Regions from separate parts of the Homo sapiens genome. Here region 2 is linked to region 1. Evidence: fine-mapped expression QTL. Tissue or cell type: tibial nerve. Region 1 holds a variant in brackets; the other region holds the start of a gene. All regions are shown on one strand. Distances are between the middles of the regions.

Region 1 (8,109 bases):
ACAGGGAGCAGCGTTGGAGAAGCGCCTCAAAGCTGCTCTTCAAGGACTGATGCTCTGGGGGCAGCTCCTTCCTTTCCATCTTCTCAGGTGGCAGGTGCTGAAGCTGCTGATAAAGAAGCAGGGAGAAAGGCCAGAGGGGCAAGCTGTCCTTCTCATGGCTTCCCTAAGGACTAGTCCCCAGTGACTCACAGTCACACTGTTCCCATTACAGCAGAGTTGGGGAGATGAGCAGCCTCCCTTTCTCTGCAGTAAGGACACCTGGTACCTGCCCCCAGTCTCCCTCAGCACATGCCTTGAGGAATGAGGCCCATCTACCATGACCTGCACCCAAGGAGGGCTGGAAGGTTTCCCAAGGGAGGGGAATACATTGTCCTTGTCACCTGCAGGCTGAGTTCTCCTGGAACTCCTGGGGGAGCATGACTCACACTGGAGACAGGGGGCTGTGAGGGAAGAATCCCTTGTAGCTCAGGGGTGAGGCTCATAACTGGAGCAGTAATTGGTGCTGGGGGCATAAATGTCTCTGGCAGCTAAAGAGACAGAAGGAAAGACATGAGTCTAACCTGAGAGACTCCATGGCTCTGGTTTTGGGGAGTGGCAGGAATGACAGTGAACAAGGAGACAGAAGAGTGAGTGTGGGAAACTGGGAAGTGAGGAGACTGGTGTATGTGTGTAAGAGGGAAAGAGAAAGAAGAGGGTTCTGAGGAAAGAAGAGTAAGTGGGAGGAGGGCGGGGACAGTCTGAGAAGGGGAAGGACTGACTGAATCCTCCAAGGAATTAGAACGTGGTCATTGGTGAATGTGCGAGGGAGTGGGTAGGGAAAGATGCATTGACCTTGTTCCTCTGGAGGTTTCCCCTGGGGGCTGGGGCTTCTTTCCAGGAATCTTGAGGTCCTATAGAATAAAAAGATAGAGGTTTTTCGGCGCATAGTGAAAAACACTGGAAGTTTTTTATCTGAAGGCTGGAAGCATTCTTTGAGTTGGAGTTCACCATACCTCCCTCTGCAGACCATCTACACTCCCAGCCACCCTCCACCCAACAGGGCCCTAGCCCTCTGACTTGAGGAAAGACTCCCAAAGTAGTGAGAGGAGCAGGGGAGGCAATAACCCAGAAGAGGGATCCATGGAAGGAAGACTGACCTGGGTGAGGAGTCAAGATGCCAGTGGTTGGGAGGACACTAGAGCATGGGGCACCTGGGTCCCCTGGAAGGTATGGCACAGGGAAGCTTGCAGGAGGGGCTGGGGTGTGGGAGACCATGCGGCCGGGACCTAGTGGTCTCAGAGGAAGCAGAGGGAACAGTCTAGGAGTCTCAGGCAGGGAGGTAGAGCCAGGTCGCATGATGCCTGGGCATGCCATGGGTAGAGGGGAACCAGGAAGAGGCCATGTCCCAGGGAATCCCACCGGGTTAGGAACTTGCACCCTTTGCCCTCCTAATAGCTGTGGCTGAGATGAAGCTGAAGCAGAACAGAAATAGGTCATTTGTCACTAAACTTCATTTCAGGAGCAACTCAGAGCATATCAGGGAGAAACAGGATTGCAATAAAAAAATAATAAATGATTAATACATGTATATGGAAATCTATAATTTACAAAATACTTTTAACTATATTCCTTATTTGACCTTCAAAACAATCCCATAGCATTGAAATAAGCAACACAACACTTTGGTATATTGCCAAAGGTACGAAGCCAGTGATAGCATTAGGAATTCAGACTTCAACTTCCAAGCTCCTCTCACTAGACAGACATACAGCTTCCCAAATCCATGCTGGCCATGCCAATTGCTTTCCTGAGACCTCTGTGCTCTGCCCAGATAGATCTTCAGTGACTCACTCACCAGGCCTTACCCCAGGGCTCAAAGGCAAAGGCTGGATGGCCTGGGGCCCAGGTGCCCTGTAGTCACTTATATTCTGTGTCCTGGGACCCTGATAAGGGCTAGGATGGGAAGGTGCCAAGGGCATCGCTGGTGATGACTGAGGGGTGAAAACCCTTGGCCTTGGAGATGGAGTTGGGACCTATGAAGAGAAAAAAACATCAGCTCTTGGAAAGGAAAGAGAAAGGTAAATAATAGAAAACAGAAAAATAATAGGGAAAATTAATGAAACAAAAACTAGTTCTTTGAGGAAAAAAATCAATAAAATTGATAAACATCTAAAAACTGATAAAGATAAAAAGCAAGAAGATATAAATCATCATCAGAGATGAAACAGGGACTATTACAACAGACCCTGAAGCCATTAAAAATATAAACGAATACTACAGAAAACTTTACATTCATAAATCTGACAACTTATCAGAAATGGACCCATTCCTCAAGAACCATAAACTACCAAAACTCAGTCACAATGAAAGAAGATCTGGATAGTCCTATAACCATTAAAGAAATTGAGTTTGTAATTTAAAAGCTCCCAAAAAAGAAATCTCCAGGCCTAGATGGTTTCACTGGAGAATTTCACCAGTCAAAGAATTAATGCAAAGTTTATGTAATCTCTTCCAGAAAATAGAAGGAACACTTCCTAACTAATTTCATGAGGCCAGTATTACCCTGATGCCAGCAACAGAAAAAGATAGCAGAAAATAAAACTACACATCAATATTTCTCATGAACTTAGACACAAAAATCCTCAACAAAATTTTAGCAAATCAAATAATGTATATAAAAAATAATATTCCACAAGAAAGTGGGATTGATTCCAGGTCATACAAAGCTGATCCAAGATATTTAAAAACCAATCAATTTAATCCCCTATACCAACAAACTAAAGAATGAAAATAACATGATGACAGAAATGATGCAGAAAAAACATTTGACAAAATTCAACACCGATTCATGATCTAGTACACAAGGTGTTATGGTCTGAATATGCTCCCCAAAGTCATGTGTTGAAAACTGAATCCTCAATGCAACAGTGTTGGGAAAGTGGGACTTTTTGTAAGTGTTTAGGTCATGAGGGCTCTGCCCTCATTAATGGATTAATGCCACTACAAAAATGACTTGCAGGAGTGGGTTTGCTTTCTCTTGCACATCTGCTATCTGCCATGTGAGAACACAGCAGCAAGGCACCATCTTGCAACTAGAGGGTGGAACCGTACCTGCTGGAACCATACCTGCTGGTGCCTTGATCTTGGACTCCAGAACCATAAGAAATAAATTTCTGTTCTTTATAAATTTCCCAGTCTGTGGTATTCTGTTATAGTGGCACAAAATGGATTAAGACACAAGGAATAGAGGGAAATGTCCTTGGTCTCATAAAGAGCATCTGTGAAAAACCTAAAGCTAACATCATGCTTAATGCTGAAATATTGAATGTTTTTCCTCTAAGACTGGAAACAAGGCAAGAACATTCATGTTCACTATTTATTTATTTTTTTTGAGACAGAGTTTCGCTCTTGGTGCCCAGGCTGGAGTGCAATGGCACAATCTCAGCTCACTGCAACCTCCACCTCCCGGGTTCAAGCGACTCTCCAGCCTTGCCTCCTGAGTAGCTGGGATTACAGGCATGCGCCACCATGCCCGGTTAATTTTATATTTTTAGTAGAGATGGGGTCTCACCATGTTGGCCAGGCTGGTCTCAACTCCTGACCTTAGGTGATCCACCCACCTCAGTTTCCCAAAGTGCTGGGATTACAGGTATGAGCCACAGCGCCTGGCTTATGTTCACTATTCTTATTTAACAGAGACTGGAAGTCCTAGTCACTACAATAAGGCATAAGAAAGAAATTAAATGCATATAGATTGAAAAGAAAGAAAACTATCTATTTGCAGATTTGTAGACAGCATGACTGTCTATTAGAAAACCCCATGGAATCCACAAAAAACTTCTATAACTATTCAGGAAAGTCACAGGATATAACCAGATCAACACATAAAAATCAACTGCATTTCTATATACTCACAATGAACAAGTGGAAACCAAGAAATTTGATTTTAAACTGCTGAAGAAAAAAATTAAATACTTAGTAGGCATGAGCTGACAGGTGATATAAAAAATTAAATACTTAAGTATGAATTGGACAAAATATGTACAGGATTGGTGTGACAAAAATTATAAAACGCTGATGGAGAAACATGCCACATTCATGGACTGAAAGACTGAACCTAGTAAAGATGTCAGTTAGGAACTTGTATTTGAATACTCATAGCAGCTTTACTCATAATACCCCAAATTGGAAACTATCCGAATGTCCTTCAAAGTTTGAATGGCTAAAAAAATTAAAACTGGGGCCGGGCGCGGTGGCTCATGCCTATAATCCCAGCGCTTTGGGAGGCCGAGGCGGGCGGATCACGAGGTCGGGAGATCAAGACCATCCTGGCTAACATGGTGAAACCCCATCTCCACTAAAAATACAAAAAATTATCCGGGCGTGGTGGCGGGCGCCTGTAGTACAAGCTACTCGGGAGGCTGAGGCAGGAGAATGGCGTGAACCTGGGAGGCAGAGCTTGCAGTGAGCCAAGATCGCGCCACTGCACTCCAGCCTGGGCAACAAAGCAAGACTCCATCTCAAAAAAAAAAAAAATTAAAACCATGGTACATTCACACCATGGAATACTACTCTGCAATAAGAATGAGTGAACTACTGGTACACAGAACAACTTGAATGAACCTCAAAGAAGTTATGCTAAGGGAGAAAAGCCAATCTCAAAAGGATACATATTGCCATGATTCTATTTAAGTAACAATCGTTAAATAACAATGATAGAGCTGGAGAACATATTGGTGAAGCCAAGGATGAGGGAGGCAGAATAAGTGCAGCTATAAAAGAGGTAACAC[A/C]AGAGAGTCTTGTGGTGATGGTAAAATTGAGTATCTTGATTTTGGTGGTGGTTACACACCACAATGTGACAAAACTGCATAAACACACATAAACACACACCTAACAATATGTAAAACTGGTGGAGACTGAATCTGAAATCTGAATCCATGGATTGTACTAATGGCAATTTCTTGGTTTTGATAGCGTACTGTGGTTGTGTGAGATGCCGACACGGGGCGGGGTGTTGTTGGGATGCAGGAGACATCCCAGTACATTTCTTTGCCACCTCCTGTGAATCTATGGTTATTTTTAAATGAAAAGAGACGGGGAGAGGGAGAGAGAGAGGAGAGGAGGGGAAGGGGAAAAGGGGAGACAAGGGAGGGAAGAAAGGGAGGGAGGAAAGGGAGGGAAAAAAAGAAAAGGAATTAGGGTGGGGATTGAAGGTGGGACAAGATGAGCCATCAGAGCTTCTGCCTGGTAACTGTATCCAAATCTCCCTGGATTCTGTTCTCCGGCAGCTCTAGCAAGCTTCTGGCCTCACATCTTAACAGTATCCAATCCCCCCGGGCACTTTGGCCAGAACCTCTTTCCTCTCCCTCAGTACCCCCAACCACACACACACCTCTCCAAACTATCAGCAATTCTGTCAGTTCTATCTACTAAGTACTAAGTATTTCAAATCCAACCTCACTGGCTAGCTTTAGTTATTTCATGTCTTCATCATCCCTTACTATAGCCTAACTCCCTCCAGCCTGGCCCTTCCTAACATACAGCTAATTATGTCACTCTTCCTAAAACTGTTCAATAGCTCCTCCCTGTCAAGTTTAAGTTCTTTAGCACAGAATGCTAGGTCCTTAGTGATCTAACTCCTACCTGTTGTTCCAGCTTCATCTAACTTCACAGCCACAAACACCTGTGTTGCAGCCCCAATTAAATAATAGTAATTCTCAAAAGGCTTCGGCTTACTCTTGCTTCAGTGCCTTTGTACATGCTATTCTCTGTGCCTGAAACAGTCTTCACTTGCTCATCCCTTTGCCTAAAACCTTTTAATCTTTGAAACTCTGATCAAACATCCGACTTGTTCTGAAACACTCCCTGGACTGCCCCCACAACCTCACCATACAGAGTAAACTACTTTCATCTGTGTGATCTTATAGCCCCTTGCCATACCCCAATCATGGTATTTATGAATTTTACTGTAGCTATTTTTTTTTTTTTTTTTTTGAGACGGAGTCTCGCTCCGTTGCCAGGCTGGAGTGCAGTGGTATGATCTGGGCTCACTTCAACCTCCACCTCCCAGGTTCAAGTGATACTCCTGCCTCAGCCTCCCGAGTAGCTGGGACTACAGGCACGTGCCACCATGCCCAGATCATTATTTTGTATTTTCAGTAGAGATGGGGTTTCACCATGTTGGCTAGGATGGTCTCGAACTCCAAACCTCATGATCTGCCCGCTTTGGCCTCCCAAAGTGCTGGGATTACAGGCGTGAGCCACCACGCCAGGCCTACTGTAGCTATTTTTTACATATCTATCTTTCGACTACACTATGAGCTACTTGAGGGCAAGTATCACAATTTTTGCACCTTTATGTCCTAAGAGCCTAGTAGTTCAATAAACAGTTATTTATTATAAAAAGAACTGAATCTATGTTCTATGGAAGTTGGGAATTTTCATCAGTTTTGTTCACAATATATTCCAAGTGCCCAGAACCATGCTTGGCACGTATTATTGAATGAACAAATGAATGAACAAACGAGGTCTTACCTGGTGAGAAGGCTGGGATCCCAATCTGTAAGATGATGTCTCTTTAGAGTGGAGGGTAGCTCCCACAACAATCCGGGGGAAGGGGAAAGGGGGAGACTGTTGGCCCAAGACAGCAGAACCTTGAGCATGAAAAAGCCGATCTCTTAGCTGCTGAACTGGTGGCTATAAGTTTTAATGAGGAAGAGCTGTGTCAAGAAATTAAAACAATCAAGGCCCCAGGTAGCAGTCAAATTTCAGCTGACCCTCTACACCAAGCTTGTCCAACCTGTGTTATTTTGTTGTTGTTGTTGTTCTGTTCTGTTTTGTTTTGTTTTAGGTTTTTAGCAGCCTGAAGCCATGGTTTTTGGTTTGTCTCTAGTGATAAGTGGAAAACCGGGATGAGGAAGGGGCTTTACTGGCCCAACCAGAAACAGAAACTAAGCACCCACGACTGTATTCTGACCCTTGGACACCCCCGCTCTATACTCTAGCCCCCTTAGAGATGACTCAAGGTTCCTGAATCCCTGCCAAACACTTGCATGCCTCCCTCCTTGCTATTCTTTCTGCTTAGAATGCTCTATATCTGCTGGTAAGCTACTTCTCTTTGAAGGTCCAGCTCAGCTGTTTTAACCATTGAGAAGCCTTCCTTGACTTCTCCAGGCAAAAATCAGTCCCTTCCCTGGACTCCCACAGTGCTCAGTATAAGCTTCTGTTATGGCACTATAAGTCATCAACATCTGATCTTCCCCCAGTAGATTGTGAGGTGCTTAAGGGATTCCATCTTATCTATCCTAGGAGCTTCAGCATTAGCATAGTGCCTGGAATATGGAAGTGCTCAATCAATGTTAGATGACTGAATGAAATGGTTTGCTCTCTCCACATGGCCCCACTTACCTGAGCACAGTCCCTGGGTAGAAAGCTCATGGCAGTGGCCAGGCTGCCCTGGGCTGCCAGGAGGTTGGCATACTGAGTGACCCTGTAGGTTGTGGCAGGGCCTGGGCTCACCCCATGAGGACCCCGCAGTTGCTCCAAGCTCCTGTTAAGAACCATCACCTTCTCCATCAGGTCCTGTAAGGGCAAGGATGAGGGTGGTAAGCCTTCAATGAGGCATATCCTGCTCTCTAAGTCCACGCAGCTCATTCAGGGATCTCCCACTATGGGTACAGATGAGGGCACCTGACCATACCTAGGTGAAGGCAGCAGATGATGACACGTAAGAACTGTGACAGAGAAGGGCCACCTGGCCTCACCTCCCAAGCTGTTAGGATTGGATTTAACTGGACCCATCTGGGTCTTAGATTTTTGTACATCTCTACCTCTTCCTTTTGCTTTTTTACCCTTTCTGCTTATACATCACCAACCACAGACTCTGTCAGACTAATTGTTTCATGTGCGACTTTTGTCTCTCCATGAGTCTGTGACCCCCACTTTCTGTGGTCACCCACAGAACACCTGGAAGTTTAGATCCACAGAACTTTCCACAGTAGCTAATAGAAGGGCCAAGCCACAATTACTCAAGTACTGAATACATCTGTAAAACCAAACCTGAAATAGGAAAAAAATTATGAAGACTAACACTGAAGCAGCTGCTGCTTAGTCTTCTCTGAGGGAAGAGGA
Region 2 (8,109 bases), 26 kb after region 1:
CAAAAAAATTAGCCAGGTGTGGTGGCGCGCACCTGTAGTCCCAGCTACTCGGGCGGCTGAGGCAGGAGAATCCCTTGAACCTGGGAAACAGAGGTTGCAGTGATCTGAGATCACCCCACTGCACTCCAGACTGGGCGAGAGAGTGAGACTCCATCTCAAAAAAAAAAAAAAAAAAAATAGTAGAGCCAGCTGGCTCAGTGGCTCACACCTATAGTCCCAGCACTTTGGGAGGCCAAGGGGGCTGATCGCTTGAGCTCAGGAGTTCAAGACCAGCCTGGGCAACATGGCAAAACCCCATCTCTTCTAAAAATATAAAAAATTAGCTCGGTGTGGTGGCATATGCCTGCAGTCCCAGCTACTCAGGGGGCTGAGGCGGGAGGATTGCTTGAGCCCAGGAGGTGGAGGTTGCAGTGAGCCGTGATCGTGCCACTGCAATCCAGCCTGGGCGACAGAGTAAGACCCTGTTCCAAACAAAAACAAAAACGGTATAGTAGTACATGTATACATTTATATTGAATATATAACTTGAGTATAATGAATATTCACATTTTTTCTGATGATATAAACATTTGGAGACCATTGCTTCAGATTGTAAGCCTCAACTTTACAAGACCTTTAGAAGAAGGGCAGAATGATGGAAAGAAGGTAGGCTTTGGACACAGATAGGCCTTGACTTAAATCCTAGCTTCTCAGAGTTTCAGTTCCCTCCTATGTAAAATGGAAATATGGTACTTATCACTTAGGTTTATTATGAGGAATAAATAAAATGTACAGAGCCCCTAGCACAGTGTCTGGCATGTATACATGTGCTCAATGAATGATAGTATCTAGCGCTGGAAGCCTGCAAGAGCCATGAAATCCATGAGAACCAATCAGTGTCTAAAAGCAATAAGGAGAGGATCATTCGTTCTCTTCCTTGTTGGCAGAGAGGGTGATATTGTGTAAGGTGTTTATCTTCACAAGAGCCAAGGGAGGAAGGAGCCAATATCTCTGGGTTCAAAGACAGACCAGGTACACGTGGGTCCAGGCTTGTCTGAGGCATCTCTATCACATGCATTCAGCCTGACACTGCTATTGCTGCTGACTGGAAAGGGGGGGGGTGGTTGTTTTTTAAATCCTTTTGCAAAATAAGCCCAGAATTAACTTTTCTCCAACTTGGCAAAGCTCCTTCTTCCCTCACTTGGCTCCTCATGAGCCCTAAGAAACACACACTGCTCCCAGGATTCCACGTCAGTATCTACCCTGTATACCCATCAATAGATCAGACAATACCTGCTCAAGGCAGAAAGGACTCCTCTGTGTTTCAAGTCCAGAGAAGGGTCCCTGAAATCAACCTCAAATATTTCCAATGTGCCATTTGTGCTGAAGGAGGAATCTAGCTGTTGGGCAGATGTTCCTAGGCACAAGAAAAGGCAGCATATGAGCAACAATATATGCATGGATTTCAGGTATAAGAAGGTTAAGGAGTGAAGAAGAGAAGGAACAGAAGAGGGCTGGGTATACCCTTTCTCAAAGGTAACTCCACAAAAGCAAGAAAACGTTGGCTGGGCGCGGTGGCTCACGCCTGTAATCCCAACATTTTGGGACGCCGAGGTGGGCAGATCACAAGGTCAGGAGATCGAGACCATCCTGGCTAACATGGTGAAACCCTGTCTCTACTAAAACTACAAAAAAAATTAGCCAGATGTGGTGGTGGGTACCTGTAGTCCCAGCTACTCAGGAGGCTGAGGCAGGAGAATGGCATGAACCCAGGAGGCGGAGCTTGCAGTGAGCCAAGATCGCGCCACTGCACTCCAGCCTGAGCGACAGAGTGAGACTCTGTCTCAAAAAAAAAAAAAAAAAAAAAAAAAGACGTACCTAACCTTGAGCCATAGTCCTAGGCAGCCCTCAGGTACCCAAAACACCTAATATCTCCTTGCTTATGCTGTGAGCCACCCTATCTTTCTATGATCTGAGAGCTTTCTCTGATGTTCAATAAATAATTCTAGATACTAAGTTTCCCCTCAACTTATGTACTCCCAGTGGATCCTAATTCACAGTGTCACCATACCTGTGGCCAGATACAAAGGGTATTGGCTGGCTGGGCTCCATGCCTGGACAGCTGGCCGCTCAAGTTCCTTCAGCTTCATGGTCTATCCTGTAGGTGGCAGAAAACTGACATGGCCCTCAGCCCACTGAAAATAGAAACCAGCAAACTTAACAGCCAGATCCAGGGAGCATCTGCGGACAAGAGTTCTTGTTTGTCTTTCTCCATCACAAGATAGGGCATTTCAGGGCAACACAGAGTGACAAATACATGACCATCTGCAGATCTAAAGATAGTTCATTCACCCAATTACTGAAATGTAATGCTTTAAACCTCAAATGATACTCAACCACAATGGCTACCACAGGTCCAGTGGTGATAACCATCAAACCAGACAATCTCTCAGTGATGTTTGTCCATTTCCTTGGCTTTAAATAGCACCCATATGCTGATGATCCCCAAATTTATATCACCATCACAAATCTCTCCTCTAAGCTCCAAGTTCTTATATGCAATTTCTTTTCGTTTTTTAGACCAAGTCTTGCTCTGTCACCCAGGCTGGAGTGCAGTGACACGATCTCAGCTCACTGCAACCCCTGCCTCCTGGGTTCAAGTGATTCTCCTGCCTCAGCCTCCCGAGTGGCTGGGATAACAGGCATGTGCCACCATGCCTGGCTAATTTTTGTATTTTTAGTAGAGACGTAGTTTTACCGTGTTGGCCAGGCTGGTCTCGAACTCCTGACCTCAAGTGATCAGCTGCTTATACGCAATTTCCAATCAAATATTTCACTTGGATATAGTAGATACTTAATGGGGGAGGGAACTCCCATTTTAGTCTGTCTAAAATGGAGTTCTCTATTCTACCATCTTTTATGGTCTTTTTTTATTTGTTTTTTTCAGAAAGGAGCAAAGTCACAATCTCTTCTGTTCTTCCTCCAGTTTTTTTCATCTTGGTAAATGGTTCCACTATCCACCCAATTGCTCAACCCAGAAGCCTGAAAATCCCTCTTGATCCCTCCTTCTCCCTCATTCTCTTCTAATCCATCATTTAGTCTCCTTGATTTAACCTCCAAAATATATCTCAATCTGTCTACTTTTCTCTATTTTCGCTGCCAACAGCCTTTTTGATTGTATCATCTCTCACCTGGAGTACTCCAACAACCTCCCAACTAGCTATCCCCTTTCTACTCAAGCCATTACCCAATTCGTTCTTTACACAGCAGCAGGAGTGAACTTCTAAAATAAAAAATGATTTTGGCATTCCATGCTTAAAATCTTTCAATGATTTCTATCACACACAGAATAAAATTCAAACTTCTTTGAGCCCTGCCCAAAGGCTCCAGCCTACCACTTCAACTTCATCTTTTAATACTTTTCTCATTCATTGTGCTTCAGCCACACTAGCCTTTAATTTCCTGACATTTTCCTTCCTTAGAGCCTTTACAAATGCTGTTCCCTATACTTTGAATGCTCTTCCCTTCACTTTCGACATGACTGGCTCCTTATATCTTTCTGGGCTCAGCTTACTTCCCCAAATAAGTGAACTACCCAATCACAAAAAGCCTCAGTTTTTTTCTTCCTAGTAATTTATAATTACATATTTATTTATATTGACATTGTCAGTCTCTTCCACTAATATGCAAGCTCCATGAGAGCTGACACTGTGTCGGCTTTTGTTCACCATGTTGTAACTAGTTTCCAAACGAATGTCTGGCATATGGTAAAAGCTCGAATGTGGACATCCATTTTAACTCTGTGGTTTCTGATCTAATTCCAATGTATATTCAAGGTCCCATCCCAACAGGCTAGCAAACAGGTAGAAATGATTTTTAAAAATTACACTGAACTTGAGGAGAAAGCTTGGGACCTACTGTGACCTGCTTGAGTAAGCTATAGTCAGATCAGTCTCACCTACAAAAACAGGAGATAGTATTACTTAATCTCTAAGGTACTTTCTAGCGTGAAGAAAGTTTAAGCCTGCCCATTAAGCCAAGATTTCCAAAGCACCTTTAAACACTTGTGGCTACTATCACGTATTCTGTGACCAGCTCAACACTCTACTATACAGTCACCAGTGCCACCTGCTGGTCACAGCCATTTTAATGTTTCTGGGAAAAGATTCCCTAACAACAAAAATAGGAGCTGCGATAAGCAGCTGTGCATTTGATGTGCATATCTCAGTTAATTCTCTCAGTGGTCTTATCAGGTAAGTACTATGATTATCCCCATTTTCTAGAGATGACAACTGGCTAGGCCGGGATGTGAACCCCCATCAGCATCAAGAGCCCGTATTTCTAACCACTGTACTAGTCGCAAGTAAACCCTAGAAAGTGTTTTAATCGCTGACAGTCTAGGAACTGGGAAAATGGGCTCTTAATTCACATTGTTAAGAGGCATCTATTCACAAAAAAAGGGCCCCCGCTGGGGTCAGATTGGCCATGGGGGCGTGAGGGGGAGATGACCAATGAAATGCTCGACAGACCTGCCGTGCAGGAGGGCACCAGCTACCCTTGGCAGTCCAGTCCCTAGGGAGGACGGTCAGCACAGCCTCTTTCCCGCTGTCGCCGAAGCGCGGCGCGCCAGGGTCAGCAATGACAGACCTTCCCGCCCAGCCCAAACGCAGCGACACCGGACGGCCTCGGCTGGGCCAGGTCAGGACCAAGGCGGATGGGAAGGCGCAAGGCAGCAGTGAACAGGGAGACCCTCATCCGGCTGGGGGTTCCCGTGCGGCAGGGACAGTAGAGCCGGATCCAATTCAAGGGTAGACGTAGTGGAGGCCCCCGAGGCCCGGACCCGCGGGCAGGGCAGGCGCGGGCCGGGGGCTCCGCAGCAAGCGGGCTCCCCTCCGCGCTCTGCCGAGAAAGGAGCAGTGCTCCGGGTCCCCAGCGCAATCTCTGCTACCAGGGACCCCAGACCGGCGGGGCGAACCAACCTGTGCGGAAGACCCCGGACAAGGGTCAGGCGCGGCGGCCGGAGCCGCTCCTCTGGCAGGGCTCTCGCGCGGAGCCGGGCGCTGTGGACGGCGGCTGCGGAGGACCAAAGCGGCGCGGACCCCGGCAGGGCACCGTCGGAAACACGCTCCGCGGGCGCCGAGCCCGAGACACTGACAGACCCACGGAGAACGTTTCCAAACAGGATTATAGCTTTTAACCGGGCCTCCCTCACCTACCCTGTGATTGCGCAGCGGGTCAGATCTGGACCAGTAAGTTCTGGTCTATTCAGTTTGAGCCAGGCTCTAGGGCCAGTCTCTGAAAAGGGAAAATACTAACTCATTATCTATGTATTGAAGCGGGAGAAGACCCGGCCCTGGCCCCAGGAGCCCTCAGTGGAATCCATTTAGTTGAAAACGTAAAAAGCAATCGAGGCTGTAAATGGCAGTGAGTGTTGCACTGCAGCCCAGCAGAAACTGGTGCCCAAAACTTGGTTGAATTAAGGGCTATAAGTGTATGGAGGGTGAGACTACAGGGCCAGGGGCTTCCTGAAATATTTGAGGAACATAGGAGGGGTGTTATCCTCTGGAGCTGCAAGAACACAGGTGATATTCCAGCCGATAATGTATTTTTTATGTTGAAGAAATTGTGCCACTTCCAAATAAAAATGTTCTGTAGACAGGTCGGGTGCAGTGGCTCACACCTGTAATCCCAGCACTTTGGGAGGCCAAGGTGGGCATATCACCAAAGGTCAGGAGTTCGAGACCAGCCTGGCCAACATGGTGAAACTCCGTCGCTACCAAAAATATAAAAATTAGCCGGGCATGGTGGTGCAGGCCTGTAGTCCCAGCTACTCACGAGGCTGAGGCATGAGAATAGCTTGAACCCGGGAGGTGGAGGTTGCAGTGAGCTGAGATCACGCCACTGCACTCCAGCCTGGGTGACAGAGACTCCATCTCAAAAAAAAAAAAAAAATTCTGTAGGCAGCTTTAAATCTTAGAAACTTATGCTTAACGCATGAATTCTCTGTATTCCTGCCTGATACACCTCCAAAGATGGGGGGCCAGTTATCATGATGGAGCCCAACTCATTGTGACACGACTCCAGTTCCCTTCCATGTGGATCTGGCAATTTTGAAGTTAGACAGAAGGTAATTCAGTGCATTATCTGTGCCTAGCCCACGCTTCCTACCTACTAAGTACTCAAGTATTTCCTGAACTTCTTAGCTGGCACAACAGGGAATGAAGCCTGAGGAAAAGTAAACAGGGTTAAAAACTAAACCTGAGAGAAGGAGGCAGAAGAGTTACTGATGGAATACTCCTAAAGAAATTTGAACCAGAAGCTTAAGTCACAGTTTCGGGTAGGACATGATTAAGCCAAATTAAAAGTGCACTTTCTCAACTCACACCTCTTAAGAATTCTTGCTGGGAGCAGTGGCTCATGCCTGTAATCCTAGCACTTTGGGAGGCTGAGGCGGGCAGATCACTCGAGGTCAGGAGTTCAAGACCAGCCTGACCAATATGGTGAAACTACATCTCTACCAAAAAATACCGAAAAAATTGGCTGGGCGTGGTGGCATGTGCCTGTAATCCCAGCTACTCGGGAGGCTGAGGCATGAGAATCACTTGAACCTGGGAGGCAGAGGTTGCAGTGAGCTGAGATCATGCCACTGCACTCCAGCCTGGGTGACAGAGTGAGACCATGTCTCAAAAAAAAAAAAAAAAAATTCTTTTTGGCCTGGCATAGTGGCCCACACCCATAATCCCAACACTTTGGGAGACCAAGGCAGGTGGATTGCTTGAGCCCACAAGTTTAAGACCAGCCTGGGCAACATGGTGAAACCCTGTCTCTACAAAAAATACAAAAATTAGCCAGGTGTGTTGGTGCATCCCTGTGGTCCCAGCTGCTTGGGAGGCTACAGTGAGAGGACCGCTTGGGCCTGGGAGGTAGAGGCTGCAGTGAGCTGTGATCACACCACTACACTGCAGCCTGGGCAACAGCGTGAGACCCTGTCTCAATAGTAATAATGATAAAGAATTATTTTCACTTTGTATTATAACTGCTGGTCTCCTATGTAATATTTGAAGGTGATTACTTTGTCTTGCTCAGTTTTATATCTCCAGGGCTTATCAGTGTTTGATACATATTAGACACACAGGTGTTTGTTAAGGAAATGATTATCAAATGCTATAGAGAATGAAGACAGATAAAAAGCCAGTGGGGACCTTCAAAGAATAGCATTCCACAAGTATCCACTCCCTGACCTCACAAAAGGTCTCTCACTGCCTGCACAACTAAGACTCCACATCTAATTTGAATGAACTTGCTTCTTTTGGTCACATAAAATGTATGCTTTTCTATGGGACAGGTTTTCCGGCAATATACTGTAACTTAAGAATATGTCCCCAAAGGAATATGGGTTGGTTCACTTAAAAATAGACATGAGGGCTGGGTACAGTGGCTCCTGCCTGTATTCCCAGTGCTTTAGGAAGCTGAGGCAGGATTGCTTGAGGCCAGGAGTTTGAGCCAGCCTGGGCAACATAGCAAGATCCCACCTCAACAAAAAATAAGAAACTTAGGTTCGTACATCCCAGTAATCCTAGCTACTAGGGAGGTTGAGTAAGGAGGATCCCTTGAGCCCAGGGGTTTGAGGCTACAGAGAGCTATGATTGTGCTACTGCACTTCCACCTGGGGAACAGAGGAAGATCCTATCTCTAAATAAAACAAAAAACAGATGAATGATAGACTCTCAAAAACATAGTTTTTCTCTAAGACTGTTATAGGAGTGTGGATGAGTCATCAAAAGTAATCAAAGCTATGAACATGTTCAGTAGTAACTCACTGACTGTCCTCCAATTCATAAATACAGGTAATGTCAACTTATTAAGAAGCTATGATTCAGAAGCTGCTTTGGAATAAGGAATATTCTTATAACGGAAATAAGATCAGAGGCAGTCGCAGCCTTAGGCAGACAGGACAAAAACACTTATCAGTCCTGTAATATACTTGAAACACGTTAGAGCACATTTTTTTCCAAGTAACCACTATTATTAAGGAGTTTTTTTTGTTTTTTTTTGTTTTGAGACGGTCTGGCTCTGTCGCCCAGGCTGGAGTGCAGTGCCACCATCTCACCGCAACCTTGACCTCCTGGG

The links. PIP is the estimated chance that this variant, and not a neighbour inherited with it, causes the effect.
Region 2: it holds the start of SEC31B, and the variant in region 1 is fine-mapped to the expression of SEC31B in tibial nerve (GTEx, PIP above 0.99). The same link has a PIP of 0.9 or more in fibroblasts.

The regions. Positions count from the first base shown.
Region 1 is chr10:100,488,872-100,496,980 of GRCh38, forward strand. SEC31B (SEC31 homolog B, COPII component) reads right to left here. Exons shown (of 26, transcript NM_015490.4): 18 at 7,387-7,560; 19 at 6,514-6,675; 20 at 1,835-2,012; 21 at 1,137-1,451; 22 at 832-890; 23 at 381-527; 24 at 1-103. Among named protein-coding and RNA genes, the nearest start is that of SEC31B, 27 kb to the right of the region's middle. The variant A/C (reference allele first, on the strand shown) is at 4,770.
Region 2 is chr10:100,514,824-100,522,932 of GRCh38, forward strand. It overlaps SEC31B (SEC31 homolog B, COPII component), which reads right to left and starts at 5,038. Exons shown (of 26, transcript NM_015490.4): 1 at 4,959-5,038; 2 at 2,051-2,174; 3 at 1,273-1,396. The coding sequence starts at 2,129.